Linked DNA regions of Homo sapiens. The protein of the gene in region 4 interacts with the protein of the main gene of each other region in a pairwise test. Each region holds a gene or a part of one and is shown on either strand. Other genes may lie near its edges.

What was found.
Region 1: the proteins of GIT2 (region 4) and C4BPA interact in a two-hybrid assay, tested with the Homo sapiens proteins (one large-scale study listed by BioGRID and IntAct).
Region 2: the proteins of GIT2 (region 4) and HGD interact in a two-hybrid assay, tested with the Homo sapiens proteins (one large-scale study listed by BioGRID and IntAct).
Region 3: the proteins of GIT2 (region 4) and GUSB interact in a two-hybrid assay, tested with the Homo sapiens proteins (one large-scale study listed by BioGRID and IntAct).
Region 5: the proteins of GIT2 (region 4) and E2F2 interact in a two-hybrid assay, tested with the Homo sapiens proteins (one large-scale study listed by BioGRID and IntAct).
Region 6: the proteins of GIT2 (region 4) and PROX1 interact in a two-hybrid assay, tested with the Homo sapiens proteins (one large-scale study listed by BioGRID and IntAct).
Region 7: the proteins of GIT2 (region 4) and LMNB1 interact in a two-hybrid assay, tested with the Homo sapiens proteins (one large-scale study listed by BioGRID and IntAct).

The regions. Positions count from the first base shown.
Region 1 is NC_000001.11:207,102,604-207,107,203, forward strand, and holds the start of C4BPA (C4b-binding protein alpha chain precursor), read left to right. Parts: upstream 1-1,629; 5' UTR 1,630-1,827; intron 1,828-4,600. UniProt on the Homo sapiens protein: Controls the classical pathway of complement activation. It binds as a cofactor to C3b/C4b inactivator (C3bINA), which then hydrolyzes the complement fragment C4b.
Region 2 is NC_000003.12:120,644,240-120,648,210, reverse strand, and holds part of HGD (homogentisate 1,2-dioxygenase), read left to right. Parts: intron 1-299; coding exon 300-334; intron 335-1,158; coding exon 1,159-1,238; intron 1,239-1,844; coding exon 1,845-1,944; intron 1,945-3,591; coding exon of another isoform or gene 3,592-3,644; exon of another isoform or gene 3,645-3,767; coding exon 3,768-3,892; intron 3,893-3,971. UniProt on the Homo sapiens protein: Catalyzes the conversion of homogentisate to maleylacetoacetate.
Region 3 is NC_000007.14:65,979,414-65,983,904, reverse strand, and holds the start of GUSB (beta-glucuronidase isoform 1 precursor), read left to right. Parts: upstream 1-1,691; 5' UTR 1,692-1,721; coding exon 1,722-1,931; intron 1,932-3,495; coding exon 3,496-3,681; intron 3,682-3,993; coding exon 3,994-4,178; intron 4,179-4,363; coding exon 4,364-4,491. UniProt on the Homo sapiens protein: Plays an important role in the degradation of dermatan and keratan sulfates.
Region 4 is NC_000012.12:109,982,476-109,986,446, reverse strand, and holds part of GIT2 (ARF GTPase-activating protein GIT2), read left to right. Parts: intron 1-2,752; coding exon 2,753-2,839; intron 2,840-2,943; coding exon 2,944-3,074; intron 3,075-3,920; exon of another isoform or gene 3,921-3,971. UniProt on the Homo sapiens protein: GTPase-activating protein for ADP ribosylation factor family members, including ARF1.
Region 5 is NC_000001.11:23,510,637-23,514,607, reverse strand, and holds part of E2F2 (transcription factor E2F2), read left to right. Parts: intron 1-3,971. UniProt on the Homo sapiens protein: Transcription activator that binds DNA cooperatively with DP proteins through the E2 recognition site, 5'-TTTC[CG]CGC-3' found in the promoter region of a number of genes whose products are involved in cell cycle regulation or in DNA replication.
Region 6 is NC_000001.11:213,990,841-213,994,811, forward strand, and holds part of PROX1 (prospero homeobox protein 1), read left to right. Parts: exon of another isoform or gene 1-134; intron 135-3,971. UniProt on the Homo sapiens protein: Transcription factor involved in developmental processes such as cell fate determination, gene transcriptional regulation and progenitor cell regulation in a number of organs.
Region 7 is NC_000005.10:126,779,810-126,783,780, forward strand, and holds part of LMNB1 (lamin-B1), read left to right. Parts: intron 1-3,971. UniProt on the Homo sapiens protein: Lamins are intermediate filament proteins that assemble into a filamentous meshwork, and which constitute the major components of the nuclear lamina, a fibrous layer on the nucleoplasmic side of the inner nuclear membrane.

The DNA.
Region 1 (4,600 bases), on a different chromosome or scaffold from region 4:
AAAAAGAAGAGCCTGAGATATATCTATATTTAGGAATGAGAAGGAGGAAGAGAAGGTAACAGTAACTAAGAAAGAGAAATTAGTTAAGTTAAGGGAATCAGGTAAGTTTAGTGTCATGGAAGCCAAAGGAGAAGAGAGTTTCAGAAAGGAAATGATCAGCAGTGACAAAGGCTGCAGACAGATCCTAAGAAATGAATTAAAGATATTTTGGACTTGGACCTAAGGGCGTGCCTCAGAGAGACATGTCAGTAGAAGAGTGGTAGAAGCCAGATGGGAAAGCAACAGGTGGAGTGATGAATGAGAAAGAACAGGCAGGTAGAACAAGTCACACCTTTGAGAAGTTCAGCATCACACTAAAGAAGAAAGGTGGAATTTGAGGTATTGGCAAAATTGAAGGGACATTTCAGGATGAGAGATGCATTGAAAATGAGGCAGGAAAAGAAGAAACAATTCTCCTCGGAATGAGGAGTGAATAGGAGGGAAAATTTGACATTGATGAAGCTAAGGTAGAATGATTTTTAGTAAAGTAGGAGGTAAGAGCATCTGCTGAGAGGGAATGTGACAATTTGGTGACCTGGAGAGAAAAATCTGCAAGAGTCACTGTGGAAAGTAAACGAAAGGACTTCAATACATTGGAAAACGGTACTTTAAAGAAATAGCAGCTTTAAAGGTGATATTTCTTCCAATTTAGTCTCAAGACTGTGCAATCTGGAATCCTCCTCTATCTTCATTCTGGTCAAATCAGTGTCTCACCTTGGTGACCTAGCGCATGGTTTCTTTACATCTAATATCCTTACCACTTTTATCTAATAATTTCTACCTTTTATCCAAATCTCACATCTTCTGTAGAAACTTCCTTGATTAACTCAACCTGTTGTAGTTTAGTTCCTTTTCTGAAACTCTTCTGGGACTTTCAGTATTTATTACAGAAAAAGTGAAGTTCTCAGAAAGAATTGCCTTTTAATAGCAATCTTCTGAGCACACAAATCTTAACCTTGAGGATTAGTAGCTTAATTGGACTATGTAAGTGCTTGTGGTCTTTTTAGATCTATGCGAGAGGAAACATGGCCGGTCCTTCATTGCGTTCTTCTGAGCGCACTGGATAGATCAATTTTTGGAGGCCCTCTGGTGCCTGACATGTAGTAGCAGTTAACATTTGCTGAACTCCAAATACGTTCTAGATAACTCAGCACATAGTGGAAACCCAATGCATGTTTGATAAATTCCCCACCTTTTGTAATTCCTTGGGGTGGGATAGAGACGAGCTCTGGGCAAGAATATCAGTTTTCAAACTCCAGGAAAGCATACTGGACCTAGTGTCATGGAAAGTGGATCATTTTTGCGGAGGCTCTCTGAACCTCGCAGTATCCAAGGTTTCCAGGCTAGCTGGACTGTGTCTTGCCATAACCCTTATGTGTTTATGAAAAGAAAAAAGAATTCTGGCTTCAAATTCAAATTACCTTTCCACTTAGGGGAAATGGTTGGCAGAGGAGAAAATAAACGATTGCGACATGTTACGAAGAATGAGGACTAGCAAAGAGGAAGGAGCTTAGGTAAACAGTGCTGCTTTATTTCTGCTGTTAATCATTCATTGGGCCCGTCAAAAGTTTCTGCCCATCTATTTCCATCAACCGTCCTTGACCAGCCAACCACATGGCTGAAATTCAGGGACTCTTTGGTGGAGCAATTACCAGTCAACTTCAGGGTATTATGATAAACTCTGATCTGGGGAGGAACCAGGACTACATAGATCAAGGCAGTTTTCTTCTTTGAGAAACTATCCCAGATATCATCATAGAGTCTTCTGCTCTTCCTCAACTACCAAAGGTCGGTGGACTACTAAACCCTTGGGGAAGCTTGGAGGAAAGGCTGGTGGTTTGGCCCTTTAAGGAGTGCAGGATTAGAAGGATAAAACAGAGACAAAAGCTTGGAGGTGTTTTCAGCAGAAATCTTTTCAGGAGCACTGTATTAGGGGGATGTAAGACTTGAGACGTACTTTAAACCCTATCTGAACCTCAAGTTTTAAAAATTATAAATGGAGGAATAATATTGCATTCTAATAAAATAAGCTAAAGAAGAAGAGGTGTAAGGTGTTGCTCTTGTTACTGTATCTAAAAGACAGATGTGTTGGTTTGTTGATCTTTCACCACCTTCCCACATCAGAGTTGAGGCAAGGGGTCAATCAGACTTTTCAAAGGGTTCACAGGAAGCTTGCTTTTCTTAGTCTACATTCTGAAAACTGGGGCCATTTCTATTTTGAGATTTGATTAACCACTCCAAATCTCCTCCACCACTGACAGCAAAGATGTTTAGATTTGGTAATAAGGAGGACACTGGCCAGCCTCCAGTTGGTTTCTGAAGCTAGCAGTCTTAGTCGTCCTCATCTTCTTTACTTTCTGAATTTGACGATGCTGATAACCCTTCCTTCTTGAAATTCTCTTCTTCCTTGGTTGGCCAGGATACAGTACCATTCTGGTCCTCATTTTAATTCTTCAACCACTTGTCTCTTTGCTGATTCCTATTCTATCTCTAAATATGGTAACACCAAAAGAATAAAAAGTAGACTACAGAAGAGGCAGAAGCATCAAAGAAGGTTGGCATTAAGCTTAGAGATATGTTTGAATGTAGTATGAGCACAGAATAAAGGGGCTGATAGAAAAATAAAGAGATTTGGCCAGGTACGGTGGCTCACTCCTGTAATCCCAGCACTTTGGGAGGCCGAGGCTGGCGGATCACCTGAGGTCGGGAGTTCGAGACCAGCCTGACCAACATGGAGAACCCCTGTCTCTACTAAAATTACAAAATTAGCCAGGCATGGTGGCACATGTCTGTAATCCCAGCTACTTGGGAGGCTGAGGCAGGAGGATCATTTGAACCAGGGAGGCAGAGGTTGGGGTGAGCTGAGATCGTGCCATTGCACTCTAGTCTGGGCAACAAGAGTGAAACTCCACCTCAAAAAAAAAAAAAAAAGAAAAAAAAAAGAGATTCTAGGAAGGGTGGGGAAAGTGTGGGAGCCAGTTCTTTCTGGAGTTTGTAAGTGATATAATTGAGAGCCCAGGTATAAGGAAGAAGACACTCAGCCCGAGACTGGAGAAAAATACTATCCTTTCACAAGGTATCTGCATTTTAAAAGGGGGAAGTTAGACAAAATAAATATTAACTTAAAAAGTAACTTCTCATGGAAGGAGAAATTTGAGGACTAAAGATTTTTCCAGTGACTCTCAAATTGCACTGCATTGCTAAGTGCTGATATTATTTTTCACAAGGGACCCGCCATGCTGACTAAAGTTCTTGAGTTGGTTCCATTTCTGCAGGAATTTAAAAGGTGAAGTCCTTGAAATATGAAAGTTGGCTAGAGTAGTCTCAGCTTTTCAGTGAGCAGTTACAGAATTGCAGAATTTGTTCATCTAGGTTTAATGTCATTATTTTAGAGATGGAGGGAACTGATATCCAAGAAGCTGATATAGCTTCTTCAAGATCACAGACTTAGACTGTGGTATTGCTGGAACTCCAACTTGTGTCTTCTCAGCTCGCAAGTTCTAGCCTCCATTCCCATACTCTGTGGCCAGCTGGTTTCTGCTGAGGGACCACCAGGAGTAGTTATGGTGAACTGCAAATGCCGTAGTTGGAGAAGAGTTAGGATGCATCCTGATGGTTTGTTAGGGAAGTCTAGTCACTGTATTATCTCTCTTCAAAACTGACAAAGCATTTCACACACATTATTTCATTTGGTCCTCAGTGAGACAGTCATTCTCATTCTAAAGATAAAATTAAATTGACTTTCATTCCTTTTAGATTTATTATTGTTTATTCTGTCTTATTCCTTCCTCCGTGTAAGTTTTTTTTTTTTTTTTGAAACGGAGTCTCGCTTTGTTGCCCAGACTGGAGTGCGGTGGTGCAATCTCTGCTCACTGCAAGCTCCGTCTCCCGGGTTCACAGGCCATTCTCCTGCCTCAGCCTCCCGAGTAGCTGGGACTACAGGCGCCCGCCACCACGCCCAGCTAATTTTTTGTCTTTTTAGTAGAGACAGGGTTTCACCGTGTTAGCCAGGATGGTCTCGACTTCCTGACCTCGTGATCTGCCTGCCTTGGCCTCCCAAAGTGCTGGGATTACAGGCGTGAGCCACTGCACCCGGCCTCCTCTGTGTAAGTTTTAAGCTAGTTAAATTCTGGTGCTCAAATTAGGTCTTTCTAAAGGCAGTGAAAGAAATCTCTGCGAAATAAGGAGGAACTCTTTTCTCTTCCTCTGCATCTGCAAAAAAGCAGATGATAATCTGCGTGATAAAACTGACCTTGCAAATGTTTTTTTTTAACAAAGGAGTCACGGGGTTATATAGACCAATTACAATACCACGTTAGAGATGGAAAGTTGAATAAACACCTTCCTTGTCTTCAAGGAATTCACAATGTATTTCGGGAGGCAAAAGCAAATAGATAGTTAGGATACAAAACAATGCTACAATTAAGGTATTAGCCAAGTACTAGAAGAACAGAAAACACTGGCATTTCATGATGAAGTCAGGCAATGCTTCACCAAGGAGGTGACATTTGATCTGAATAGTGAGTAAAGGAATAGTGAGTAAAGGAGAAGTTGGAGGTAA
Region 2 (3,971 bases), on a different chromosome or scaffold from region 4:
GAAGAAGCCTTTGCTGATTCTTCAAACTAACCAAGTCGCTATTCTTTCATTCCCTCAAACTTGATTTTCACAGGGTCATTACAGTCTGCAAAGATATTGTTCTGTAATTATTTGATTGCTCTCTGACTCCCCACTAGACTCTAAGTTCCACAAGGGCAGAGCCTGGGTCATTTTGCTCCCCATTTTATACCCAGCTCTGAGCTTGCTACATAGGCACTAAACAATGATTTGTGTTATGACGTAATTTGTCTAGACAATGTTAAAACTGAAAATCACAAGAATTACTCTATATGTTTCAGATGCTTTTACAATTCAGATGGGGACTTCTTGATTGGTGAGTTCTGAAGACTTCAGACCCCCTCACTGTTAATTGACCCCTAACCGCAAGCTGCTTTCTAATTTTATACACATTATTTTCCTTCATTCTCCAATCTGTCTTATTTCATTTAGTGCAATCCAGAGACTGAGGTCTAGAGGCCACAGGTGGTCTGGAAAAGATTTCTAGTGTACCTCAAAGCCCCTACTCTATTTCCTTGTCTCTCTGTCTTTGCCCATCTCTTCTGGACCTTTCTGATGTGGGAGACCTGGGCAGCTGAAAAGAAATGAAGACTAATACTAATGGGATTAACTTATTACGGTAACTGTATTTGCCTTGAAACTCTCTCAGTAAAAGCCCATTTATCATTAGTAACTGCAATTTAAATTCAAATTTTCATGAGACCATCTAAAATGTAAAGTCTATCAGAGATTGTTCTGGTCTGCCTATTATACTTGATGGTTTTTTAGTATCAATATTTTGGAATCAACATTTTCGTGTATATGTCACACAAGCAAATGTCAGCCTTTCACTGGAACTATCAGAAATGGGTGATTTTCCATCCTATTTCTGCTACCCCTTTTTGACCATGTCACAAAATTGTGCATATACAAGTTCCTTGCCTGGTGACCAAAAAAGCAGAGTCATTGTTTTATTCACATTCTTCTAGATAGGAAAATAGCTAATCTAAGTTGTCAGAATTTATCTTTTTCCCCAAGAGACTCAATAAAGCTCTTTGCATTTGGAATGGAAAAGCAAATGCAGCCTTAAGCCTTTCCTGTTCATGAAATGGTTATCACACCAAAAGAATTGCTCACCACTGCCCTGTCTTTTTTTGTCAGTTCCGCAGAAAGGGAACCTTCTCATTTACACCGAGTTTGGCAAGATGCTTGTACAGCCCAATGAGATCTGCGTCATTCAGGTTGGTGATGTGTCCCCTTCTCTTCCCTGCCTCTCACTAATTTGGGAGCAGTCAGATGTTTCAGCTGCTGCTATTTCCAACTCTAAAATTTCTCTGTCATGTCTGGGCAACGAGGAGGGAATCTGAGTTATGCAGAAGGTTCCATGTGCTGAAGAGTAAGCAAGCTTGGGTGCCTGCTTTCTTTTAATATAGCACATAATTCTAAAGGAAAGACCACTTGTCATTGCACTTTCCTAAATATTTACATATACTCTGGATAAGGCCCTGTTCCCACTAATGGCAGTAGAGGCAGTGAAGGTGGACTTTTTTTTTTTTTAGTGTGGCTAAATCAGGCTTACCATTATCTCTGGACCCAATGAGAGGGTAGACTAGAATTGGCTTGGGTCACATGTGTGATTAGGAATTCAGTTTTTCTTTTTAAACTGAATTTTAAAAATTTCTTTTTAAAAAAATTCAGTTTTTCATGTTTGCTCTGGTCACCTCCCAAGCAGCTCAACAAACAAGAGCTTTACTTTTGCATGTGGGATGGGCTATGGCTCTGGGCAGCTTCTTTATAACTACAGCTGTGATTTCAGAGGGCACACCAGTGTCTGCTTTCCATTCCAGAGAGGAATGCGGTTCAGCATAGATGTCTTTGAGGAGACCAGGGGCTACATCTTGGAGGTCTATGGTGTCCACTTTGAGTTACCTGACCTTGGACCAATTGGTAAATCTTCATTACAAGCCTCTAAGCCTCGCTTGAGATGTAGGACTCAGATAATTGCATGAAAGTTAAACATCCTTCTCCCTTCGCTGTCTCACTCAAACTTCCACTTTTCTCTCTAGACAAATTCTTCTCTAGACCAAGTGTCTTCCCAGAAAATATATGCAAAACAGAAAGCAACCCAAACCAATCCATTATAAATCTCTCTAGAATAGTATACAGACATTGGAGATAAAGACGGCATGTAATAGATTTCTGGTTGCATAGTGTGTACAGGAAAGAATATAGAAGTTTGGGTTACTGTGGGCTTGGGTCACCAGAAACAGCTCCACAGAAGAGATGAGAATTTGACTAATTCTTTATGAAAAGTTGAGGAGAGTAAAGAGGAAAGGGAACAGCTTTGCAAAAGCATATAAGTGAGAATAAGCTTTGTGATTAGGAGGAAGATATTTTTGTTAAGTCAGTGAGATTTATAATGGATTGGTTTGGATTGCTTTTTGTTTTGCATATTGTATAAAATGGGAAGGCCATAAAAATGCCCTGGGCTGTATTCCTATGGAAAGGAGGGATGGACTGGGTGACACATAGTCTATGAACCTCTGTGTACACCCCACCAAATCCACACACTTAGCAGTCAAAAAAACACATCACTCAGTGCTATGAGAGATCTAGAAACCACACCCCAGGAGGCAGATTAAAACATTCCAAAGTGAACCAAGGTCTCCACAGCCCCCATTCTTCTGGCAAGCTGGAGGAAGTGAAAATGTTAGGAGGGGTTGTTCTCAAACTGTCTCTTGGATTGAAAGAAATGGCTGGGAAAATTGGCCCTTGGTTTACTCTTTGGTCACATCTCCCAATTCTTCCCTTCCTTGTCAACAGCTTTTTAGAGCAAACAGGGACAGGCCAGTGTGTGCCTTCTGGTCAGCTCCTCTGAGGAATCCAAATATGCAGAGGAAGGTGGGAGGCAGCAAGAGGCAGCTGGAGCCGTGGTGGGCCGTCTGTCATCCTGTTCACCTCCCACTCTTCCCACTCTGCTCTGGCTTCCTGCTGCTCTATAGTCAGCATAGCCTCCAGGTTCCGTGGAACATGTACCCTCTGGAAAATATCTATAATTTGCTAACCAGCCGGGGACTTATTTTTTTAAGTCCAGGAGCTGGAAATGATAAAACACTCCTCAGCTCGCTCCTCTCAGAGTTAAACTGTTTTTGCACTTAAGTTTTTCATGTTTGGTCTTTTGATTTATTTCCTTTCTCTGGAGGAAACACTCACTCCTAAGCAAAGGTAAGCAGGCAGGTCCTAAATACTTCTTCCTGAGTGGCAGACAGGGTTTTTCAGGCTGGAGAACCGTTTTCAGACTGGAATCTGAGTTCTGTCTAGGGAGCAGAGGCATGCCTTAGGCAACAGCGTGTAACCCTTTCTATCTGAGATCAAGGACTGTCAATGACTTCTAGAATATTCAAGGGTTCCTTCAAAAGAAAAAGTTCTGGAGTTCTATCAGATCTTCCCTTTTCCTCTTTTCAGTTCTCTTTCTCTCTTCCCTTCCCCTCACCTGTAGTGATAAGATAATGCATATAAGATTGTTTTGTTAACCATAGTCACTCCACAACCTTAGAAAGTAATGCTGGTTTTTGTGAATTTTTTTCTGACCAGATTCCTTGGGTCTTCCTAAAAGGTACCAGACTGGAAATGCAGTGAATCTTTGAGCAATGAAAGCAATTTGTGGAGTAGCTCTTGACATGAAAGAAAGCCTTTCTCTTCATGCAACCATGGGCATCTTTCCTATGTTTTGGAAGTTTCTAAAAGACTTTTGGGTTACTGTTTTCTAGGGGCCAATGGCTTGGCCAATCCTCGTGATTTCTTGATACCCATTGCCTGGTATGAGGATCGCCAAGTACCAGGTGGTTACACGGTCATTAATAAATACCAGGGCAAGCTGTTTGCTGCCAAACAGGTAAAGTAAAAGGGTTGGCAGGCAAGGGAGGAAATGAAGAGTGATTGAGCACTTACTGATTGCCAAGGCGAGTGTTACA
Region 3 (4,491 bases), on a different chromosome or scaffold from region 4:
GGGTTAAAGCATTTCTCCTGCCTCAGCCTCCCAAATAGTAGGGATTACAGGTGCCTGCCACCACGCCTGGCTAATTTTTGTATTTTTAGTAGAGATGGGGTTTCTCCACGTTGGCCAGGTTGGTCTCAAACTCCTGATATCAAGTGATCCTCCCGCCTTGGCCTCCCAAAGTGCTGGAGTTTGGAGTTACAGGCCTGAACCTCTGTGCCTGGCCTGCTTTTTTTTTTAGACTGAGTCTTGCTCTCTCGCCAGGCTGTAGTGCTGTGGTGCGATCTCGGCTGACTGCAACCTCTGCCTCCCGCGTTCAATCGATTCTCCTGCCTCAGCCTCCCGAGTAGCTGGGACTACGGGCGCATGCCACCATGCCCAGCTAATTTTTTAGTAGAGATGGGGTTTCATCATATTGGCCAGGCTGGTCTCAAACCCCTGACCTCGTGATCCCCCCACCTCCGCCTCCCAAAGTGCTGGGATTACAGGTGTGAGCCACTACGCTCAGCACTGGCCTGCTTTTTAACAAGCTTTTACTACTGCTCTGCAGCTTACCTCCCTCTGGCTTTCTGCCTTATGCCCCTCAGTGCAATTCTTTCTTCTGAGGAGGCAAGAATTGAGGTTGTTGCTGATGTGTAGGGATTCACCACCCGGAACTCCACCAGTAACAGGTCGAGGATGCTAGTTGAAAATGTTATGTAAGCTGCATGCTTTTTACAAATGGTAGTGGTTCTCATGTCCAGCAATGGCCACTGCACCGTCCCTGTATGAAAGTCCCCTCCATAAATCTATGTCTCCTTTGCTGTCTCCAGATCTCCTCCTCTACCTCTCCCACACGGTGCCTTCCCTACTGGAGTAAACTGGGGTCCCGCAGGGCACCCTTTCCCTGCAATTTTTTTTTTTTTTTTGAGACAGAGTCTCGCTCTGTTGCCCAGGCTGGAGTGCAGTGGTGCGATCTCGGCTTACTGCAGCCTTTGCCTCCCGGGTTCAAGCGATTCTCCTACCTCAGCTTCCTGAGTAGCTGGGATTACAGGCACGCACCATCACGCCCCGCTAATTCTTTTTTTTTTTTTTGTATGTTTACAAAATAGGGACGGGGTTTCACTATCGTTGGCCAGGCTGGTCTCGAACTCCTGGCCTCAAGTGATCTGCCCCCCTCGGGTTCCCAAAGTGCACCTGGCCTCTCTCCCTGCATCTTTATGTGCCTGCAACACCAAGAGGGAGCTCTTGGCCCCTGGGTTAAGGTCAGGGCTCCAGAAGCCCAGGGTCAAGGCTATGGCCGCATCCCAAGGACGTGCATCCCTGCAAGAGGCTGCATCAGACAGGCATGGAAGAGGCGCCGCTGGGGCCTCCTTGAATTCCTGCTGGGAAAAGCAAGTGGAGGTGCTCCTTGAAGAAACAGGGGGATCCCACCGATCTCAGGGGTTCTGTTCTGGCCTGCGGCCCTGGATCGTCCAGCCTGGGTCGGGGTGGGGAGCAGACCTCGCCCTTATCGGCTGGGGCTGAGGGTGAGGGTCCCGTTTCCCCAAAGGCCTAGCCTGGGGTTCCAGCCACAAGCCCTACCGGGCAGCGCCCGGCCCCGCCCCTCCAGGCCTGGCACTCGTCCTCAACCAAGATGGCGCGGATGGCTTCAGGCGCATCACGACACCGGCGCGTCACGCGACCCGCCCTACGGGCACCTCCCGCGCTTTTCTTAGCGCCGCAGACGGTGGCCGAGCGGGGGACCGGGAAGCATGGCCCGGGGGTCGGCGGTTGCCTGGGCGGCGCTCGGGCCGTTGTTGTGGGGCTGCGCGCTGGGGCTGCAGGGCGGGATGCTGTACCCCCAGGAGAGCCCGTCGCGGGAGTGCAAGGAGCTGGACGGCCTCTGGAGCTTCCGCGCCGACTTCTCTGACAACCGACGCCGGGGCTTCGAGGAGCAGTGGTACCGGCGGCCGCTGTGGGAGGTGCGATCTCGGGGCAGGGCCGGGAGGCGCCCGAAAGCCCGGCGGTGGGAGTAGGGGAGCCCGGGCCCCCCGCAGACTTCTTCCCCTGGGCGTCTCCGAGCTGGGGCCCGCAGGAGGTTAAAGGTCAACGGGCTTGGGGGCGCCGGCTTGGGGGACGGGGGAACAGGAGCACCCTGGAGGGCCGGGGCGGATTAGGCAGGAGGAGAAAAGGCTCTTGCCGAGCCCTTTCCCGAGGTAAAGGCTGAGTCTGTGCAGTATCCTTCCTTTCAATATTTATTTTTAATTTTTAAAAATTTTTTTGAGACTGGGTTTGCACCTGTTTCCCAGGCTGGGGCGGAGTGGCGCCAGCCTAACTTCTGAGCTCAAGCGATTCTCCCGCCCCAGCCTTGCAATTTAGGGGGTGCCAACACGCCTGGCTAATTGAAAAAAAAAAAATTATCTGGGCTCGGTGGCTCACACCTGTAATCCCAGCACTTTGGGAGGTGGAGGCGGGCGAATCGCCTGAGGCCAGGAGTTTGAGACCAGGCTGGCCAACATAACAGGGTGAAACCTCATCTCTACTAAAAATATAAAAATTAGCCAAGTGTGGTGGTTCATGCCTGTAATCCCAGCTACTTGGGAGGCTGAGTCAGGAGAATTGCTTGAACCCGGGAGTAGAGGTTGCAGTGAGCTGAGATCAGGATGCCACTGCACTCCAACTTGGGCGACATAGTGAGACTACGTCTCCAAAAAAAAAAAAAAGGCAAAAAAACTTAAAAAAAAAAAAAAGATACAGGGTGTCACTATTTACCCAGGGTGGTCTCGAACTCCTGGCCTCAAGCCATCCTCCCACGTTGACCTCCCAAAGCGCTGATTACTGGCATGAGCCACCCACACACTCTGGCCACAGCGGCATGCACTGCACAGAGCTGGGCCCGGGGATCGGGAGAAGGTGACAGTTTAGATGTCCTGAGGTCAGCTCTGCCGAGGCAGGAAGTCCCTTGGTTTTCAAGGTTCACATAGAGGACAGGACATGACATCAGGCCCAGGACGCCACCCCTGTTCCCCTCCTGACTTGGATGTGATCTGCAGAGAAGTGGAACTGGGTGAGGTCTGGGCGGCTTTTGCCTGGTCTACATCCTCTTATTCTGACTTTGCAGCATTCAGTACAGGAGGGAAAGAGGAGGGGGCTGGGTGCCAGTGTGCACCCCACTCACAGTGTCCTAAGCAAAGCTCCCCCCATTCCTCCAACCAGCCTTCCTCCCTGTGACAGGCAGTGGCCATCTGCCTCTTAGTCACAGGTCTGAACCTTCTTGCCTCTGGCTGGGATGTGGCCCTGGGCTTGCTCCTGTCTCAGGAGATATTGTGCCCCATCCACTCTGAGGAGGAACTCCTGGCCCCACTGGCCCAGGTGCACAGATCGCCCTGGCAGTTGACCTGTCATCAGCAAGTTATCTGTCCTTTCTGCCAAGAATCCCCGCTATGTGTCAGGGCTTGTGCTAGGCCTGGGGGCACAGCCGTGCAGCACACTGGTCCTGGACCCTTTTGGGGGCCTAGGAGCTGAGCCCGGCTCTTCTCTCCACAGTCAGGCCCCACCGTGGACATGCCAGTTCCCTCCAGCTTCAATGACATCAGCCAGGACTGGCGTCTGCGGCATTTTGTCGGCTGGGTGTGGTACGAACGGGAGGTGATCCTGCCGGAGCGATGGACCCAGGACCTGCGCACAAGAGTGGTGCTGAGGATTGGCAGTGCCCATTCCTATGCCATCGTGGTCAGTGCGGCCAGGAGCAGGCAGGGCGGGTGGGGGGGCACGGCTGCTGAACAGCATGGGACCTCCAGCTGCCACCCACGGCATGTATGCTGGGGTGGGATGGTGGGGGGTCCTGCCCTGCCCTGCCCTGGGGGCTGTGCCCTGTATAGGGGGATAGGTAGCCTGATCTACCCCATTGGGATGTCATTCTTCCCGTCTGGCTGGAAGGCCCCGGAGCCCCATGCTGCAGGTTATGTGAGGGAGTGCCCGATAGTAGGGCGCCTCCTCATGCCCTGACCTGCAGCCCCCTCCCCGTATCTCCTGTGTCTGCAGTGGGTGAATGGGGTCGACACGCTAGAGCATGAGGGGGGCTACCTCCCCTTCGAGGCCGACATCAGCAACCTGGTCCAGGTGGGGCCCCTGCCCTCCCGGCTCCGAATCACTATCGCCATCAACAACACACTCACCCCCACCACCCTGCCACCAGGGACCATCCAATACCTGACTGACACCTCCAAGTGGGTACCATCCTGCCTCCATTGCACACACCCACCTTCCCGCCCCACCCTGTGGTCTTCCTGGTAGGGACTGGGTGGCCTTCACAGAGTGGAGGCCTTGGATCTGGGGAGGCCAGGGAGGCCTGTGAGCTGAGGTCAGGGGACCCAGAGCAAGGGCCCAGCAAACCACAGTCCTCCCATCCTAGGTATCCCAAGGGTTACTTTGTCCAGAACACATATTTTGACTTTTTCAACTACGCTGGACTGCAGCGGTCTGTACTTCTGTACACGACACCCACCACCTACATCGATGACATCACCGTCACCACCAGCG
Region 4 (3,971 bases):
CGTTGGCCAGGCTGGTCTCGAACTCCTAACCTCATGATCCGCCTGTTTCAGCTTCCCAAAGTGCCGGGACTACAGGCCTGAGCCACTGCGCCCAGCCATGGTGGATTAACTTTTGATGTGCTACTGGATTTGGTTTGCTAATATTTTGTTAAGAGTTTTTTAAAAAATCTGTGTTCATCATGGATTTTGGCCTGAAGTTTTCCTTTTTTGTTGTGTCTTTGCCAGATTTTGGTATCAGGCTGATGTTGGCTTCACAGAATGAGTTAAGGAGGAGTCTCTCCTCTTTGATTGTTTGGAATAATTTTAGTAGGATGTTCTTCTTTGTATGTCTGGTAGAATTCAGCTGTGAATCTCTTGAACTGGGGAGACGAAGGTTGCAGTGAGCTGAGATCATGCCACGGCACTCCAGCCTAAACGACAGAGTCTCACTCTGTTGCCCAGGCTGGAGTGTCGTGGCACAATCATGGCTGACTGCACCCTCAACCTCCCTAGTCTCAAATGATTCTCCCACCTCAGCCTCTCAAGTGGCTGAGATCTCAGGCATGTGCCACCAAGCCTGGCTAGTGTGTGTGTGTGTGTGTTTTGTTTTTGTTTTTTTTAGATAGAGTCTCTGTTACCCAGGCTGGAGTGCAGTGGCACGATCTCGGCTCACTGCAACTTCCACCTCCTGGGTTTAAGCGATTCACCCGCCTCAGCCTCCTGAGTAGCTTGGATTACAGGTGCCCACCACCATGCCCGGCTAATTTTTTTTGTATTTTTAGTAGAGACAGGGTTTCACCATGTTGGCCAGGCTGGTCTTGAACTCCTGACCTCAAGTGATCTGCCTGCCTCGGCCTCCCAAAGTACTGGGATTACAGGCATGAGCCACCGCGCCTGGCCAGTTTTTGACTTTTTGGAGAGATGGGGTTTCACCATGTTGTCCATACTGGTCTCAAATTCTTGGGCTTAAGCAGTCTGCCTGCCTTGGCCTCCCAAAGTGCTGGGATTACAGGCGTGAGCCACCACATCTGGCCTTTTTTCCCCCCCCTTTTTTAATCCCCAGCAGAATCTGGCTGAAGAATTCAGAATTTGAAATTTTGCATAGAAATGCATATACTAGCTACTTCCATTGATTAATAAGACTTGGTATGTGTTGGGTTTTTTGTTTTTTGTTTTTTTTTCCTTGCCAGAGTTTTAAAAAATTAGGCACAGTGGCACATCCCTGTAATACTAGCTACTTGGGAGGCTGAGGTGGAAGGGTTGCTTGAGCCAAGGAGTTCAGTCCTGCCTGGGCAACATAACGAGACCCTGTGTTTAAAAAACAAAAAAACTATTTAAAAAATTAAACTTAGATGTTAGAGTAGATTTCTTCATTCCTGTGATAAGGGTTACTGCATCTTGGACAATTCTAGGTTAGATTTGAAGGAAGGCAGCTCATCTTCTGACTGTATAAGAGCTTTTCTGCAGTAGTACAGAATTCGGTATATCACGGGCCTTTTCCTACCCTGAAAGACTTTATTAAAGCATATTATACAGGCCAAGAATAATGTGGTAGAGAGGGTATTGTATAAGGCAGGATCCTGTAGCTTACACAGTGTAGAATTTGAAGTCCTAAAGCCCTAATTACAGTAACAACTAATAATAATAACTGTTATTATAGCATTTGTATTCTTTGAGCACTTTATTATATCACTAAATCCTTATAATAACCCTGTGAATAGGGCCAGGCACGGTAGCTCATGCCTGTAATCCCAACACTTTGGGAGGCCGAGGTGGGAGGATCACTTCAGCTCGTAAGTTCGAGATCAGCCTGGGCAACATAGTGAGACCTCATCTGTATTGAAAAATAAAAAGTTAGCAGGGCATGGTGGCCGGCGCCTGTAGTCCCAGCTGTTTGGGAGGCTGAGGTGGAAGGATTGCTTGAGCCCAGGATACTGAGGCTGCAGTGAGCCATGATCACTCCACTGCACTCCAGCCTGGATGACAGAGCAAGCGAGACCCTTTCTAAAAAGAAAAATGCCACCTTTTAAAATTTTTTTTATTTTTTATTTTTTTTGAGACAGGGTCTCGCTCTGTCACCAAGGCTGGAGTGCAGTGGCATGATCACAGCTCACTGCAGCCTCCACTGCCCAGGCTCAGGTGATCTTCCCACCTCAGCCTCCTTAGTAGCTGGGACTACAGGTGCGCATGCCACCACACCCAACTAATTTTTGTATTTTTTGTAGAGCCAGAGTCTTGCTATGTGGCCCAGGCTGGTCTCAAACCCCTGGGCTCAAGTGATCCTCCAACCTCAGCCCCCCAAAGTGCTGGGATTACAGGCATGAGCCACTGCATCTGGCCATTGTTGACATTTTTGAGATGAGGAAAGTGAGGTTCAGATTGCTTAAAGCCCTTTCTCCAGGCCACACAGCTTGAAGTGGGTATAGTTTGAAATTCAGGTCTGTCGTATGTCAGAGCCACGCATAGTCACCTCTTCACACAGTCCTGCCTCTCACTCAGGTTCTGGTTGTGCCACTTCTTAGATAAGTCATGCATTTGGGCAAGTCAGCCTTCACAGCCCTAGTTTCCTTATCAGTAAAGTGGCCTCACTCCACCTTACAGCCCAGGGACAGTTGTGACTGGCAAAGGAGAGACTGGTCCATGCACTTTACCGAGACAAATAAAGATTATGCGTTACTGATGTAACATATATTAAAATGGTCTATCAGCTGCCCTAGGACATCATTCTTTACACCTCTAACCACGATTCCTTTTTTGTTTCTGCGTTTTTCAGCAACTCCATTCGAGCGTGAGAACAGGGAATCTTGAAACCTGTTTGAGACTGTTATCTTTAGGAGCACAAGCCAACTTCTTTCATCCTGTAAGAAAACATGAATTGCTTCAGATATTGAAACTAAGTGAGTTGTGTTCATGTAGCCTTTATTTAATGTGCTCTTTTGCCTACTTTTTATTAATGATTCTTAGGAAAAAGGAAACACCCCACTCCATGTTGCCTCCAAAGCAGGGCAGATTTTACAGGCTGAATTATTGGCAGTATATGGAGCAGACCCAGGCACACAGGATTCTAGTGGGAAAACTCCCGTTGATTATGCAAGGTAAGAGACCTAGATTCTCGCTACTTCTCTCTGGGATTTTTTTGTTGGGTGTGATTCCTTGTTAAGTAGCTAAGTTGTATATGTTGATATTGAACCCCTTTAAAGATGTACGTTATTTTATTTTACAGATGAAGACATTTCAAATGCATATAAGCTCAGCCTGGCAAAGTTGAGGAAGGCTAGAATCATGAACCAGTGTGCTAAGCTTCCAGTCTTTTACTTGATCCTTTATAACACAGTGATGTTTGAGCTGTAGTCAGATTCCAAATCAAGTATCAAGAATTACAGAATGTACTCTTCTGTTTTTTAATACTCTTAGTTATTTCTTGAACTTAAAAGCAAATATATACATAGATATGTGATTAAACAAGTATAGTAAAAAGTTAATTGTAAGGTTTGGGTAGTAGACATCTAAGTGCTCACTCTAGGCCAGGCATGGTGGCTCACACCTGTAATCCCAGCACTTTGAGGGTCCAAGGCGGGTGGGTTACTTGAGGCCAGAAGTTCGAGATCAGCCTGGCCAGCATGCTGAAACCCTGTCTCTACTAAAAATACAAAAAAAAAAATTGGCTGGGCATGGTGGCAGGCACCTGTAATCCCGCTACCCGGGAGGCTGAGGCAGGAGAATCACTTAAACCTGGGAGGCAGAGGTTGCTGTGAGCCGAGACCATGCCACTGCACTCCAATCTGGGTAACAGGGCAAGACTCTGTCTCAAAAAAAAAAAAAAAAAAAAGTGCTCACTGTAAAATTATTTAAATTTTTCTTTATTAATAAAGTCCTTGAAAAATAAATCTATAGGTTAGTCTTGAATATCATTTAAATGGCCAAAGATCAGTCATCTTTCCTTCTTTTTCCAAAGTACTTTTATTAACTGTGAAGCACAATACTCTGTTCCA
Region 5 (3,971 bases), on a different chromosome or scaffold from region 4:
GATCCACCTGCCTTGGCTTCCCAAAGTGCTGGGATTACAGGCTCCAGCTCTTTATAGAAGTTTGCTGTCCCCAACTAACTCAACCCTTCTTTTAACACATGAATGAACACAGGCCCAGAGAGGGCAAGTGGCTTCCCTAAGGTCACACAGCAAGTTGATGGCAGAGCTGGGACCAGAGCCCAGCCTCCCAACTCTTCTCTAATGATCTCTCCTGTGTCTGTCAGGCCTCATCAGGGACCAGAGCTTCTCCCTGTGCTAGCCATCTGTCCCTTGGGACACCTCCCCAGTGCCTATCTCCCATCCCAGACCTCTGCCCCACCCTCTGGTCCATCCTCCTCCTGCTGTGCCTCCTCACTCAAGTGTCAGCATGCGCATAGCCCTCCGAAGCTGGAACCACCTTCGCTTCAGTTGTCCTCTGAGACCTTGGGTGGAGGTGGCAGATCCCAAAGCATAAACAAGGGTGTGAAGTTGTTTTTTTTTTTTTAAGACAGAGTCTCACTCTATCACCCAGGCTGGAGTGCAGTGGCACAATCTTGGCTCACTGCAACCTCCGCCTCCCAAGTTCAAGCAATTCTCCTGCCTCAGCCTCCCGAGTAGCTAGGAGTACAGGTACATGCCACCATGCCCGGCTAATTTTTGTATTTTCAGTAGAGACAGGGTTTCACCATGTTGGCCAGGCTGGTCTCGAACTCCTGATCTCAGGTGATCCACCCACCTCAGCTTCCCAAAGTGCTGGGATTACAGGTGTGAGCCACCGAGCCCAGCCGGGTGTGAAGTTTTTACCTGAGTTTTACAAATCAAGATCCTGAAGCCCAGAGAGGAGCAGAGGCTTACACAGCAGTCTGGTGGGGCCAGCTCTCATGTCATGGCTGTCCCCACGACCCTTGTCACATGGCCTCATAGTATTATCCCTGCTGAAGGGAGGAGGAGGAAGTTTTCCTGGTCTTGGCTCACTGCAACCTCCGCCTCCCAGGTTCAAGGGATTCTCCTGCACAGACACACACACACACACACACACACACACACACACACACACACACACACATGTTCCGTGCTGTGTTCTGAAATAGTATCATTTTGAGGTCTGAGTGCCAGAAGCCATGTAAGAGAGGAAGCCACTACAGTCTTGGGACCTGGGTCCTGGCCCTGGTTCTGCATTACCAGGGGAAGTGTTCTCTGCAGCCTCAGTTTCCCTCATCTGTAATGGAAGGGGTTTCAACAACATCATCTCTGACATTTCTCCAGGCTCTGACATTCTGAGATACACCTAAATGTAGCTGATGGCACAGGATTTGAAATTGGGAGACCTGTGTTCAAGCCTGTATCTCACTTCTTAGTGACTTGGTGACTGTGAGTGAATCACTTTAACCCCCCAAAGCCCCAGTTCCCACATCTCTCAAATGGGGACACTTGAAATTTCCTCATGAATATTGAATGGGTTATAGAAGATGACATGGCATAAATGTGATTTAAAAAAAAAAAAAAAAAACTTATGTGGCCAGCCGCGGTGGCACACACCTGTAATCCAGCACTTGGAGAGGCCGAGGGAGGTGGATCACTTGAGGCCAGAAGTTCCAGACCAGCCTGGCCAACACGATGAAACCCCGTCTCTACTACAAATACAAAAATTAGCCGGAGGTGGTGGTGCATGCCTATAATCCCAGTTACTCAGGAGGCTGAGGCACAATAGTCACTTGAACCAGGAAAGCAGACGTTGCAGTGAGCTGAGATTACACCACTGCACTCCAGCCTGACCGACAGAGTGGGACTCTGTCTCAAAAAAAAAAAAAAGCTTGTGTGAAGAGCATCTACTGAGCTGGGCCTGGTGCTGTTTTAGAGACAGAAAAGCAGTAAGAGCCATTCAGAGTGTGGTGGAGAGACACATATTACAAAAGGCGATTCTATTTCTGGACGTGATCAACAGCAGGAGACAGCAAGGTCTGACCTATAATAGAGATTTTCACATGTGTTTTATCAGTTACTGCTTCTAATACTCATCCCTGTTTTTCCACATGAGGAAACAGAGTTCTGGGGTTCCATGGCTGGTGAGAGGAGGCGCTAGAGTCTGAGCCCACATGCTCCCCGCTCCCAAGCCAGGCCTCTGACTGTAACATCAGCAGCGTGCCAAACAAACCTTAGATTTTTTTTTTTAATTAATATACATTTAATGGACTTCTTTGGGCCCTAGTTTTCTCATCTGTAAATAGGGGTAACAGCATGGACTCCCTCAGGGCCATTTGAGTGTGCAAGGAGGCTGAACCACGCCTCGCCTCAAGGGCAGTGCCACCACCTCCCCCATTAGCCTTGGTAAATGGGAGCAATTTTTAACAGGAGCAAGGGCAGCATGCAGACCCGACAAACCAGTGCTTATTTATTTATTTGTTTGTTTATTTATTTATTTTTATTTTGAGACACGAGTCTCGCTCTTGTTGCCCAGGCTGGAGTGCAGTGGCGTGATCTTGCCTCACTACAACCTCCACCTCCTGGGTTCCAATGATTCTCCTTCCTCAGCCTCCCTATTAACTGGGATTACAGATGCCTGCCACCATACCCAGCGAATTTCTGTATTTTTAGTAGAGACGGTGTTTCACCATGTTGGCCAGGCTGGTCTCGAACTCCTGACCTCAGGTGATCTGCCTGCCTCGCCCTCCCAAAGTGCTGGTATTATAGGCATGAGCCACCGCACCAGGCCAAACCAGTGCTTCATATGCACTTACCATGCGGTCCTCTGAGCAACCCTTTGAGGTAGGTAGTGCTATGCTGCCCCATGCAGAGGGGAGAAAATGGATGCTCTAAAACGTGAAGTCCAGAGCAAGACTCCATCTCAAAATAAATTAAATAAATAAATAAAATGTGAAATCACATGCCTATGGGTGCACCACCAGTCTCAACAGGCAGCCTAGCATCCCAGCGCAGTTGTATCTTCAGAATAATACTTGGCTGGGGCTTAAGGAGTGACTGCAATGTGGGGGATTCTGAGCATCAGGATATATGTGGCAGGCAATTTCCAGTGCTTCATTGCATGTCCCTGTATGGGAAATCACCGTCTTAACATCTAAGTGGAAATGAGCAGGTTGGGTGTGGTGGCTCATGTCTGTAATCCCAGCACTTTGGGAGGCTGAGGCAGGAGGATTGCTCGAGCCTGGGAGTTCGAGACCAGCCTGGGCAACAGAGTGAGACCCTGTCTCTACAAAAAAGTTTAAAAATTGGATGGGCATGGTGGCACGCACCAGTGGTCCCAGCTACTCAGGAGGCTGAGGCGAGAGGATTGCTTGAGCCCAGAAGGTTGAGGCTGCAGTGAGCCGTGTTCACCCTACTGCACTCTGTACTCTAGCTTGGGCAAGACCCTGTTTCAAAAAAAAAAAAAGAAGGCGGCGAGAAAGAAATGAGCATAGAGTGCTGGAGAATGGCTACTGAAAGGTCAAATAAGATGAAGCCAGAGAAATGACCATTGGGTTTAGCAGCATGGATGTCACTGGCTCAGGGACATGGTGGGGAGAGACCCCAGACTGGAGTGAGTTGAAGAGAGAATAGTAATAGGGAAGTGGAGACAAGCTGAGGCTACTCTGGAGAAAGTTTACTGTGCAAAGGAGCAGAAAAATGGGCCAGTAATTGGAGAGGGTGATGAGGTCAGGTATAGTTGTGTGTGGTGGAGAGTAGAGGCAACATAACAAAAATTTACCATCATAACTATTTTTAAATGTACAGTTCAGTGGTAATTAATACATTCATAATGTTGTGTAACCATCACCATTCATCTCCATAACTCCTTTCACCTTGTAAAACTGAAACTCTGTACCTATTCCCCATTCCCCTCTCTGCCCAGCCCCTGACAACCACCCTTCTACTCTCTGTCCCTGCGATTTTGACTAAGTATCTAATGTAAGTGGAATCACACAGTATTTGTTTTTTTGTGATTGGCTTATTTCACATAGTTTAATGTCCTCAGGGTTCATCTATGTTGTAGCATG
Region 6 (3,971 bases), on a different chromosome or scaffold from region 4:
ATGTACATAAACTCTTTCAAGTCATATGTTAAATAATCTCATAAAGTAGAATGAGCCTGTCATTGTCCCAGACATGTGCCAAATGTCCTAGATATGAATTTGATGGAGAAAGAAAATCTCAAGTACATGAGAAGGTAACTGTGCTTTTCTATTCTGATGCAAGATGTGAGAAGTCAGTTCTACAGGGAATTTCTTGCAAGAACTTCTGAGTATTTCCAAAATGAAATTTTTTGTGTGTGTTGAGGGAGGAAAACGAGAGTATTCACATTAACTTGTCCATGGGTTAAAACATGGACATGTATATGTAATAGTAAAATAGGTGAAGCTAAGGACTGTGGCTTGATGTGTGAGGAAAGTTGTTGGGAATTCAATGTAAGCACTATATCTGGCTTCTTAAAACTTGACCTTTTAAAATTATCTTTAAACAGACTACTTCTGTAGACTGAGTTGCACAGGAATAGGTTGGTTGGCAAATGGTTTTTGCTCATTGGCTTTGTGTTTGGGTAGTTATTGTTTCCATGAAAATGAGATCGTATGTGTCATTTATTCTGTAGACTTCAACATTAACGTCCCCCCACCTCCCAAACACACACACACACACCCAATACTTTCCTTGGATGCTTTTGAAGTTCTTTGGTAATTAAAATGTCATCTATGCCTATGTTCATTTGCTTTATTTTTAATAGGGGTTATCTGTGCTTGGCACTTATTGATATTTTATGTGTCCATTATGCAGAATTCTATTTAGTTTAATCACCACCTTGTGGGAAAAAAAAGTCATGCATACATAACATGCATCTTTGTTCTCACTTTATTCATTTCCTAGCATCATTCCTCTATAAGCAGCACATGCTATCTTAAAACCTAAGCTGGCTTATTCTGTAAGTTGCCAGACTTCCTCTTTATTTGTTTAAAACTCAAACAGGCCTCTTTTCATGAATGTCTTATATCATTTTAGGGATTGTCTTGAATTTGCAGTGTTAATATAAGAAGTTTTAGGTTTCAGATTAACAAAAGAAATTATAAAATGTGACTGATGTTATAATATGAAAATAGATTGTGCATGATGTATCATTATAGGATTTTAATTAAGTACCTGTGTAACTTGGAAAGGAACCATATACATAAGGAATTTCTCAGACTTATTGCCTGTGCATTCTCAAAGGACATTTAGAGAGTTCAATTTTCTGCAAAAAGAAAAAAGTGTATTTTCTTAAGATTATTTCACACTCTGTCTTATTTACCTATCTGATAAGTTGTTACTTTTTAAACAAGTAGAAATTAATATTTTAGGCATGTCTCAGAAAATGTTCTGTGTTCATTTTGCAGGTGAAAAGTGTGTGGAATTTTTGATGGGATGGGAGAATCTTAAATGAAATCTTAAATGATTTGAGAAGTATATTATGACAGGAAATTTAAAAACCTGATAACGCAATCTTAGTTAATTTAGGTATTAACTTATGTCAAGTGAGTTCTTCAAAATAAATATCAAAGGTTTTCTTAACCTGATAGGGAGCAGAAATATCTCCAATATCTCTGAAGAAAAAGTTGCTAATTAGCAGAAACAAATTCTTGAATGTAGTGAAGGGGACAATTTAATGATTCAGGGGCTACTTAAATCAGACCATCTGATTTTTCCCCTTTGAATCACTAATTTCCAGATTGATTTGAAATATTCTTTGTTAATGATATCCTATTTGAAATTTCATAACCAGGTTGACCCAAGTAGATTAGAGGCCCATACAAAGATGATTTTCTAAAAGAAGTCAAGTGTAGGCTTGCACAATTTCTTCAAATAATTTTATCAACAAAGACAGATCATCTAAATAATCCAAGCAGGAAACCATGCCAACCTTACACTCTCCCTGCCTCATAAAAGATTTGTCTGAACTATCTGGATAATTACCGTAATGAAACACTTCTTTGTCCAGAATCTGGACTCCAGATAGATGCAGTAAAAGTTGAATCCTCCTCCCCGAAATAACTTCTTTATTAAAGTAGAGCACTTAACCACTTTATACTTCACGCTGCAGTGTTCCTTTGAAATTCTTTACTGAAAATTCTTTCCTCCTAACCTTAAGTCATCAGTTTCCTTAGAATTTTGCATGTTAAAGAGAATGTCAGATAATTCAGATATTAAAGGAGACTCTTTTGGAGTAGTTAAAACCTGTTTTGATTATACCTGGATGTTTATTCTTCTAATATCTTTTTCTGGGAGGAATCTGCTATGTTAAGATATGCATTGTATAAGAATTACTAAAGCATTTGTGTAGGTTATATACGAAGTGATGCAACAAAATATTTAATGATGAAAAACTCTATATAGACTTTCACATTAATTAAAGAGGGGTTTACAGGAATAGAGTAAGTGTATCCGATCAATAATACATTTGGGTTCAAATTCTCATCAGTATTTTTCTGCATCCTTGCTGATTTGGACATCCACCAGTGTTGATCAAAAGCTTCATATTGCCTAGTGAAACTGAAAATTAATGTTAAAATGCAAATATGATATGCATCAATAATAATTGCAGGTGAAACATGATAGCTTAATACATATCTTGAGAAATAAAGGAGTTTAAAAAATATCAATGATAAAGTCATTCCATGGCTTCCTTTAAATTCTGAACTGGAATATCATGGAAGCACTTGGGAAATGTTTTTAAGAGATTTAATTTATATTATGGTAACGTAACAGTACATTTTCTTATGTGGTAAATATATTCATATAGATATCTTGTTTATGAAATGTGATGCTAATAAAGTGCTGTGTCAACCGGTTATTATTATTTAATCATGCCTATAGCTTCCATGGGTTATGGTTCCAGTGTGTGCTACCACTATACTTTTATTTCTAAATTAAATCTAAGCTATATGGAGAGATATATTTATTTGTGCCTATTAATATAATGCCTTGTCCTGGATTATATAATTTATCTTATTTTTCCCATTTGTTTTGTCTTATTTGTTATGTTCCAGCTGGACATTTTACAACAAGACCTAAAAGTATTTAAATTCTTTTAGCCCAAGACAGATACAAATCGTTATTTAATCTAAAAATGTTGACTGAAATAGAATTACAAAATTAGTTTAGTTTGGTGAATATCAAGGGAGTTATATCTTGTTCTTAACAGACTCCACAAGCATTTCTTTCCACCTTAGGAAGAGCACAGCCCTCCTCTTGGCTCCAGCATGGGGCAGGGATGCAGCTGTTGATACCTAGGCTAGATGAGAGGAAGTGCAGTTGACGCAGAGGTAAATGGCAGTTGGAAAAGGAAGGATGCCTGGGGATGACCTTGTGCTCATCAGCGACACCAGTCTGTCCTTTCCAAGCCTCTGTGGCAGAGCTGCTCTTCCCACAGCAAGGATGGCAGGAGGAAAGTCCAGTTTGGGTGTTAGGGTGAACAGGGAGAGAAAAAATACTGCAAAAAGTTTGTTTGACATTTTGATTGGAGATCCATGTGCTTTGCAGGTGATAGTCAAGAGAAAAGGATTTGCATACAAATAGAAAAGATGTAAAATTTAAAAATAAGGGCAATAAGCTCTATTTTGGGGAAGGTGATATACACACAGAAAAAAGTCTTCCTTGTAACCGCCCCCCATGCAAGTGTTTCTTTGATTAACAGAGCTTTGAAATGATTCATCCTTTTTCTTGTCTCAGCCTCTCCTTGTTCTTTCTGTCATCTGACAGCTAACCTGATTTATCAGATCTAATGTGTTTGTGTAGTATTTGTCACTGCATTTTTGTATTCCTGAAACCAATTTTATTATTAGTGTTTGAAAGGGTCTCAATCATTCTGAATTCAATTTTGAACCCAATGTTGTAGTTCTTGAGAACTCCATCTCCATTCTAAGTTCAGGAAATTTTATCCTGAAGCATGCAAAAAGTATTTCATTCTCAAGCATGCAAATATATATATATATATATATATATATATATATATATATATATATATATATATAAAGAGGTA
Region 7 (3,971 bases), on a different chromosome or scaffold from region 4:
ATCACGAGGTCAGGAGATCGAGGCCATCCTGGCTAACAAGGTGAAACCCCGTCTCTACTAAAAATACAAAAAATTATCCAGACGTGGTGGCATGCATCTGTAGTCTCAGCTACTTGGGAGGCTGAGGCAGGAGAATCGCTTGAACCCAGGAGGCGGATATTGCAGTGAGCTGAGATTGCGCCATTGCACCCCAGCCTGGCGACAGAGTGAGACCCCATCTCAAAAAAGAAAAAAAATCCGGGCGTGGTGGCGGGCGTCTGTAATCCCAGCTACTGGGGAGGCTGAGGCAGGAGAATCGCTTGATATCCAGGAGGCAGAGGCTGCAGTGAGCCAGATGGTCCACTGCACTCCAGCCTGGGTGACAGAGTGAGACTCCGTCTAAAAAAAAAAATTAACACAGATCAAATATCTGTTGCGTACCAGTCACCGTTCTATGTTAGAGGATATGAAGATTTTTTTAAAAAAATGAATTACTGTTCTTTGTTGCTGAGAGTGTAGTGGGGGAGCTATATCCCAGCAAGTAAAGAAAGATTGTCTTTTGTCTGATGTGAAGCATTTTGATGCTGGCGCTTTTGTAATCTTTCCAGGAGTTAGCCACAGGAGGTTTTTCACACAGTAACAAGGCTGCCACCTGGCTGACAGTAGTTGTAAATGTATCGATTCTAAAATGCATGCTGGTTTCAGCGGGGTTAAAAAATGAGAATAATGTGTATTAGAATCAATGAAATAATGCATGTGATACAATTTAGGTAATAGCAGATGCTAAGGGAATAAAAATAAAGCGGAGTGAAGGGTTAGTGTGATTAAGGAAGGCCTGTCTGAGGAGTTGACAGTACCTATTCTCTGAGGGTTAGTAGTGTTCTGGGATTATATTTTTCTTAAGTCTGTGCTACTGTATGTATATTCCTATTGCCAGGATTAGATGACTCTTCTTTTCCCCCCAACATACCATCATTTGCTCAAAACATGCCACATTTTAGTTTGCTCCTTATTTGAATTAGGACTTTTTTTATATGGATTTATTCCTCAATAGCTTTTCATTTTTCTTGTTAAGAAAAATTTGCCCTCAGTGTGTTTGCAGACTTTTTGAAGATATTTAATCATAATATCTATCACATGAATCTGCTTTCTTCCCTAGAGTTCTCTTTGCTTAAGGTAGGCTGTGTACTGATGTCCTGTAACTTATTAAAGACAGCTTCCTGGCCAGGCACGGTGGCTCACACCTGTAAAGCACTTTGAGAGGCCTAGGCAGGTGGATCACCTGAAGTCAGGAGTTCAAGACTAGCCTGTCCAACATGGCGAGACCCCGTCTCTACTAAAAATACACAAATTAGCCGCGTGTGGTAGTGGACGCCTGCAATCCCAGTTACTGTGGAGGCTGAGGCAGGAGGCATTGCTTGAACCGGGGAGGCGGAGGTTGCAGTGAGCTGAGATCACACCACCGCACTCCATCCTGGGTGTATTTTCCTTTTCCTTGGTTTCTTCATATTTTGTTGAAGAACATCCTTAAGTAATTTATTCAGAAAGGATGGCAGGAGGTAAACTTTCTGAGTCCTGTATGTCTGAAAATAGCTTTGGGCTAGGTATAGAATACTAGGTTAACATTTTTCCAGAACTTGGAAAGTATTATTTTGCCCTATTGTCTTCTGGCATCTAGGGTTGTTAATGTCTTTCTTTTTTTTTTGAGACGGAGCTTGGCTCACTGCAACCTCCGCCTCCCAGGTTCAAGCGATGCTCTTGACCCAGCCTCCCAAGTAGCTGGGATTACAGGTGTGCACCACCACACCCGGCTAATTTTGTATTTTTAGTAGAGACGGGGTTTCACCGTGTTGGCCAGGCTGGTCTCCAACTCCTGACCTCAGGTGATCCACCCACCTCGGCCTCCCAAGGTGCTGGGATTATAGGCGTGAGCCACCATGCCTGGCCTATATTTAATTTTTTATTTGGAACTAGAGTGTTTGTAATTAAGTATAATCATCATTTAGGTAGATTTAGATTAAGAAAACAGCTTTGAGAGAATTATAGATTCCAGGTTACTTAGTTTCTTTTTGGTTCCTCAGCAAACAAGATACCTTAGAGGCAGAGCATGGAAATGCTTGGTCTAAAGAGAATTTGGCAACAGTTTCCATGCAGGTGGTGTCTGAATCCATAGAAAACAGACCTCATATGTAAGGTACAGTTACTTTGATTCAGTCCAAGACTGATTATATTTTGCTGAAAGCTTTTTTGAGAGAACAGTTTCCAAAAATGATGATGAATGCCATCACTCAACACTTTAAACAAAAAGTACAGAGAAATTGACTTGTTTCAGATTTTCACTGTTAACTATACGGGAAAACTAGATATAACAGAAAGTTAAGTGTTTACATCAGTCTTCAATAACTGATTTTGTGGATTCAGACATTTATTTTCCTTCAGTGATACAGGTCCCGTATCTTTTCTGTAAAACCCTGGGGGCCAGATGTGCTTTGGAAGTTAAAGCAATTCCAATTTAAGACGGTAATATGATGCACATACTGGATATGACACCCCCAGTGGGGTTTATAGATAGAGTTAGGGTAGATAGAGTTAGCACTCTATCATGAAACATTTCTGAGGGAAAGATATTGTCATGGCAAGTGGAGAAAGACAGATTGAAAATAGACCTGGTTTCAGGTCAGGTTTTGCCACTAAATGTGTTAATAAAAATTTTAGGTTTTCAAACTCTGGAAGTATAGATAAAAGATGGTGAATTTTTGTTTTTATTTATTTATTTTTTGACACAGAGTCTCGCTCTTTTGCCCAGGCTGGAGTGCAGTGACACAATCTCAGCTCACTGCAACCTCTGCCTCCTGGGTTCAAGCAATTCTTCTGCCTCAGCCTCCCAAGTAGCTGGGATTACAGGCACCCGCCACCACGCCCAGGTAATTTTTATATTTTTAGTAGAGACCAGGTTTCACCATGTTGGCCAGGATGGTCTTGATCTCTTGACCTCGTGATCTGCCCGCCTCTGCCTCCCAAAGTGCTGGGATTACAGGCGTGAGCCACTGTGCCTGGTCAAAAACATGCTAATCTTCTTTAGGAGTGTTTTCTTTGTACATAGGATGATTAATTGAAAAACAAAAACCTTTGGCTGGGCGTGGTGGCTCACGCCTGTAATCCTAGCACTTTGGGAGGCTGAGGTGGGAGGGTCATGAGGTCAGGAGTTCGAGACCAGCCTGACCAACACTGTGAAACCCCATCTCCATAAAAATACAAAAATCAGCCGGGCGTGGTGGTGCACGCCTGTAATCCCAGCTACTTTGGGAGGCTGAGGCAGGAGAATCTCTTGAACCCAGCAGGTGGAGGTTGTAGTGAGCCAAGATCGTACCACTGCACTCCAGCTTGGGCGACAGAGCGAGACTCTGTCTCAAAAACAAAAACAAACAAACAAAAAAACCACAAAAAACAAACCTTCATCATCCTGTGTATTACTATATCTTTTTTTAATGTACTGATTTTGCCCTATTTGAAGCAGATTGACAGTATACATCTTGGCCTTAATATAAGAGTTATCAAACTTTTATATTTTTATAACTTAAAATATAAGAGTTATAAAACTAGTTTTCTTTATAAGAGTTATAAAACTAGTTAAACTGCTTTTCATAGTTCTTTTATAACAGAGTTATGTTAAATGTTACTTTAATTTTCAAGGGAAGACTTGGAAGGACCAAACCCCTAAAAATGATTTAAAAGTCTAGGAAGCAGGTCCCAAGTAATTAAACTGTCATGACATTTCCTTCCCATGCTTTCAAAAGATGTTTGATAAAGCAAGATCTTTTGGAGTTGTTTATTTAACTTAGGGGATGAGACTAGGTAATATTTTGCATACCCAGATTCAAGGAAGTAAACAGGCAGAATGAAAGATAAAGCACTATTAAAATATGGTGGGTCTTTTCTTTTTTGTGTCTTTACACAGTTGCTGGTTATATTTATTCTTTCGTTTGTATAGA